Linked DNA regions of Homo sapiens: region 2 is linked to region 1. The links come from fine-mapping of genetic effects on gene expression. A gene starts in region 1. The other region holds a variant in brackets. All regions are shown on one strand. Distances are between the middles of the regions. Region 1 holds the start of RAB10 (RAB10, member RAS oncogene family). Region 2 has its middle 22 kb from the start of KIF3C.

Region 1 (2,500 bases):
CACTTAAATTTTCTAACCAGATTCAAAAGGGACTTTCCTAGAGCCTTCCCTTTTCCTTTCCTAAACGGGAAATTCGATTAAAAAGGTCACTCTTTAGCTCTTACTTCCACACTAAGTAATTCTGAAACATGGTGAAAGTGCATTATAAGTCCATAGGGCTATGACTGGCAAAATACTTTCCTGTAAATACTAGAGTCAAATAAAATAGAAGAGAGAGCTTGACTTCACTCCGTTGGGTTTGAGGACAGAAACTGATCATCTCCCTCAGATTACTGCTTCTGTTGATGTCTCGAAAAGCACTGAGGCAAATATGCCAGAGTCCCACCCCAAGCGCGAAGAGCCTCCGATTGTTTGACACATCAATGGATTAGTGAATGAGGGCAACTCACTCTTCCCTTCTAATTTACCTTAATTATTCTTCTCAGAAACCCTCAAGTTTACTCTAAGTTATCACCATATGGAATCTTTTCTTTGCCCCAAAGTATAAATTCAGGCCTTTCCCAAATAGCTAGTACTGCTTCAATCGCAACCACTGAAATAAATACCTTAAAAATATCACACATCTACTAATTCCACGCAAATGTGGAAAAAGCCAGTCCAGTCGCCTGAAGAAATAAGGTTCTGGAACATGGTTAAATGATGCATATTTTGTAACAGAAGGCACTGAGCATAGTGGGAGACTCGAAAGCAAAAGACCGGATGGAAATCATGGGAAGACCCCGCCCCAGTAAGCTCGATGCCGATTCAAACAGTAACTTGGATGTGTCGTTTGGAATCGGAATCACTGAAACAAAGGCGTATATTACGGGAAGCAAGATGTCTGGAGTAAAATAAACGGTATGCAGCTACCGAGACCGTACACCGTCCTCCCACAGGTCTTACCTATGGTGGAAATAAAGGTAGTATTGAAGGCATCATCCGAAAAACGAAAAAGGACGCAGGTCTTCCCCACTCCGGAATCCCCGATCAGGAGCAGCTTGAAAAGCAGGTCGTACGTCTTCTTCGCCATTGGGAGGAGCGGCTCGGGCTCTCGCCGCCGGCGGCCCCAAGGGATCGGTCCCTCTCACTACGGCCAACTCCTCACTCGGGCGTTCTCAGGCCGGAGGACCGGGGAAGCGTGGGAAAAAGGCTCGAGACGGCGCGGGCGACCTACGAACAGCTTTGAGGAAGCCCCGACAGTGGCGGCGTCCAGTGCCTCCGAGGGCGGCGACCGCGGCTCCGCAGCCTCTCCCAGCCCGTCCGCCCGGTTCCGGGGAGTCGGTCGGGACAAAATGGCCTCCCCTCCCCCCTCAGGGCTTCTCGGCCGGGACGCTCCCACGGGCGAGCAAGCCTGCTCTGCCGTCGAGGAGGCGCAGCGGGCGTGAGGACAGTCTCTCTCCCGAGCGGAAACTCCCTGCTAGCACGCGGCGAGGGCAGCGAAGAAGGACCCCTAAGTCGACGAGCTCAGTTACATAGCCCCAGGAAACCGAGCCACCCCGGCCAGAGCCACCTTTTCCCCGTGCCCTCTCACGCCGGCGTGCGCGCTGCCTGAGACGCACGCAAGGGCGTACGCCCGCCCTTCCCTCACGCCCTAGCCTTGCGGTCCGCCTCTGCGCACGCGCACAAGAGGGCATGGGGGCGCGCCGAAGTGGCGAGTGGAATGCTCCTGTCTCCAAGCCTCAGTCTGAGGCTGGACCCAGAGGGGAGAAGGGAGGGGCGAGAAAGGGCGAGGCCGCGGGCGCGCTCCCTGTGGCCGCCTGATAGGGTGCGCGGCGTTACGAGCACGCCCCGGGGGAGACGCTACCTAGCGACTGCGCAGGCGCAGCGCCCCCCCTCCGACCCCCGCCTCCCGCCTCCCGCTCCCCGCTCCCCGGGACACCCTTACAGAGCCCAGCACCTCCTTCCCCTCCCGGGGTCTCCCGCTGGACTGCGCTGCGGTTTCTCTGCACAGCGCTTGTCGGGTGTGTTGAGCTGGAGGTCTTGGCGCAGCGACGGGCTTGGGTGGCCATGTGTTCCCGTGTAGGTGGAGCTCGTAAACGCGAGAAAAAGCCGCGCCCTGGGTCATTTAATAGCCTCTTTGCTAGAACGAGACGCCTCCCGGCGTGCCCCCTCTCCAGGGCCAGCCCTGACGGGGAAACATGAGCGCTCCATCCGGATTGACTTCAAGAGCAAGAGTTTGAGATGGAAAAGCTGGCCACGCCGCTCGGGTTGGGATGAGGTAATCCTCACAACCTCTTCCTGGGCGAGGAGAGGAAGGTTGAGGAACACCTGGGCGCAGGAAGAACCTCCCTGCGAAGTGGAGGGTTCTGTGCGGTGCTCAGAGAACCTGCTTCAGGCCTTTGCCGTCCTTCAGGAATCCGGGAGAACCCGAGAGCGCTCTGCAGAGGAGGTGGGGCCTCTGCCTGCCGCCAGCGTCGTACCACTGGGTTGAAAATTGAAAGGTGGTCAAGCCTACTCCCAGTCCGACACAGCCTGCTTCCTCGCATTTTCTTTTTCTTTTTTTCTTTTCTTTCTTTTTTTT
Region 2 (3,013 bases), 29 kb after region 1:
CGGATCACCTGAGGTCAGGAGTTCGAGACCAGCCTGGCTAACATGGTGAACCCCCGTCTCTACTAAAAATACAAAAATTAGCCAGGCATGGTGGTCCAGGCGCCTGTAGTCTCAGCTACTTGGGAGGCTGAGGCAGGAGAATTGCTTGAACCTGGGGGGCAGAGGTTGCAGTGAGCTGAGATCACGCCATTGTACTCCAGCCTGGGAGACAGGAATGAAACTCTATCTCAAAAAAAAACAAAAAAACAAAAAAAGAACCTGGCCGGGTGCGATGGCTCACGCCTGTAATTCCAGCACTTTGGGAGGCCGAGGCAGGCAGATCAGGGGATCGGGAGATTGAGACCATCCTGGCTAATACGATGAAACCCTGTCTCTACTAAAAATACAAAAAATTAGCTGGGCGTGGTGGCGGGCACCTGTAGTCCCAGCTACTCAGGAGGCTGAGGCAGGAGAATGGCATGAACCCGGGAGGCAGAGCTTGCAGTGAGCCGAGATCGTGCCACTGCACTCCAACCTGGGCAACAAAGCGACAGAGCAAGATTCCATCTCCAAAAAAAAAAGAACCTTTGCTGAAACAATGGGGGATGATAATAAAACCAACCCAGAGGAAAACAGCCAAGAGACCATTTCCTGGTGACATGGTTCGGGTCCTTAGATCCAGCTGTGCCTGAAGCTTGAGTTATCCTAAAATTTGTCTGAGATAAGCCATTACGTCTCCTCATTTACGTCAGCCGGTTTGAATTTGGTTTCTGTTACTTGCTACCAAAAGAGTACTGACTAATTCAGAAAGCTTAAACAATCTATTTGAATTCAGACAGCTAATAAATGACAAAGAGGGGCCTGGAAGACAGATTTTATGTTTCTGATCCTGTGCTCTTAGATGAAGTGTAATGGCCAGAGTGAAGGTGGGGTGGAAGAGGCAGTGAGGAGAACGCCAAGGCCAGTGTGATGGGGCCTGACTGAAAAACAGGCTAGGGAAGCTAGAATAGGAAACAGGGAGTCACCAAAGGTGCTTGAACACTTCGTGGGTTTTTTTTTTTTCTTTTTTTTTTAGAGATGGGGTTTCGCCATGTTGCCCAGGCAAGTCTCAGACTCCTGAGCTTAAGGGACCTGCCTGCCTTGGCCTCCCAAAGTGCTGGGATTACAGGTGTGAGTCACCACGCCTGGCCATGCTTGAACAATTTAAATGAGACATTTAAAGAAGATAATGAGTACTTCTGTTTCTTTTTTCTTTCTTTTTTTTTGTTTTTGAGACAGAGTCTCACTCTGTCACCCAGGCTGGAGTGCAGTGGCACGATCTCGGCTCATTGCAACCTCTGCCTCCTGGGTTCAAGTGATTCTTCTGCCTCAGTCTCCTAAGTAGCTGGGACTGCAGGCGCGTGCTACTACGCTTGGCTGATTTTTGTGCTTTTAGTAGAGATGGGGTTTCACCATATTGGCGAGGCTGGTCTCGAATTCCTGGCTTCATGATCCACCCGCCT[T/C]AGCCTCCTAAAGTTCTGGGATTACAGGCGTGAGCCACCATGCCCAGCCCTTTTTTTTTGAGACGTAGTCTTGCTCTGTCACTCACTGCCTCCCAGGTTCAAGTGATTCTTCTGCCTCAGACTCCTGAATAGCTGGGACTACAGGCACGTGCCACCACGCCCAGCTAATTTTTTGTATTTTTTTAGTAGAGACGGGGGTTCACCATGTTGCTCAGGCTGGTCTTGAACTCCTGACCTTGTGATCCACCTGCCTTGGCCTCCCAAACTGCTGGGATTACAGGAGTGAGCCACTGCGCCCAGCCTTGTGTTCTGTTTCTTAACATGGGGGATGGTTTTAGCTCCCCACATACATTCATTCTAAATTATGCTGATATGTTTTGTATGTACTTCTGAATACATACATGATGTAATTCATCATTTTTTTTTTTTTTGAGACAGAGTTTCATTCTGTCACGCAGGCTGGAGCGCAATGATGTGATCCTGGCTCACTGGAACCTCCATATCCCTGGCTCAAGCAATCCTCCCACCTCAGTCTCCTGAGTAGATGGGACTACAGCTGTAACCACACCCAGTTAACTTTTGTATATGTATATATTTTTTGGTAGAGATGAGGTTTCGCCATGTTGCCCAGGCTAGTCCACCTCAGCCTCCCAAAGTCCTGGGATTACAGGCATGAGCCACTGCGCCCAACCATTCATATTATTATTATTATTATTATTGTTATTATTATTATTAATTTAATTAAATTAATTAATTTACTTATTTATTGAGACGGAGTCTCACTCTGTCGCCAGGCTGGAGTGCAGTGGCGCAATCTCAGCTCAGTGCAACCTCCACCTCCTGGGTTCAAGTGATTCTCCTGCTTCAGCCTCCTGAATAGCTGGGACTACAGGCACCCGCCACCACGCCCGGCTAATTTTTGTATCTGTAATAGAGACGGGGTTTCACCATGTTGGCCAGGATAGTCTCAATCTCTTGACCTCGTGATCCACCCACCTCGGCCTCCCAAAGCGCTGGGATTACAGGCGCGAGCCACCGCGCCCAGCCATTTATATTTTTTTGAGACAGAGTTGTGCTCTTGTTGCCCAGGCTGGAGTGCAATGGCACGATCTTGGCTCACTGCAACCTCCGCCTGCCAGGTTCAAGCGATTCTCCTGCTTCAGCCTTCCGAGTAGCTGGGATTACAGGCATGCACCACCCCGCCTGGCTAATTTTTGCAACTTTAGTAGAGACAGGGTTTCACCATGTTAGCCAGACTGGTCTTGAACTCCTGACCTCAGGCAATCTGCATACCTCGGCCTTCCAAAGCACGGGGATTACAGGGGTGAGCCACCGCGCCCGGCCTATTATTATTTTTTTACCCTTATACATAGGTAGGGTTGGTTGGTTGTCGTTTATAATTTTTAAAAATAAAAAAGAAAATAAATGATGTAGTGGTGGTGATCTGCTGAATGGGATGGAGAAGAGAGACCCTGGAGTCAGATGTGGAAAGGAAGCTGGTGCTGAGATGAGAGCTTGGGCTGAAGAAGGTA

What was found. PIP is the estimated chance that this variant, and not a neighbour inherited with it, causes the effect.
Region 2: its variant is the best candidate, but not a certain one, in a credible set for the expression of RAB10 in whole blood (INTERVAL, PIP 0.51).

What each region holds. Positions count from the first base shown.
Region 1 is chr2:26,033,118-26,035,617 of GRCh38, reverse strand. It overlaps RAB10 (RAB10, member RAS oncogene family), which reads right to left and starts at 1,534. Exons shown (of 6, transcript NM_016131.5): 1 at 883-1,534. The coding sequence starts at 1,009. LOC124907743 (a long non-coding RNA gene) reads left to right here and starts at 1,869. Exons shown (of 2, transcript XR_007086249.1): 1 at 1,869-1,940. RefSeq lists an enhancer at 1,279-1,328 and a silencer at 1,639-1,868.
Region 2 is chr2:26,003,477-26,006,489 of GRCh38, reverse strand. No RefSeq gene overlaps it. Among named protein-coding and RNA genes, the nearest start is that of KIF3C, 22 kb to the right of the region's middle. The variant T/C (reference allele first, on the strand shown) is at 1,482.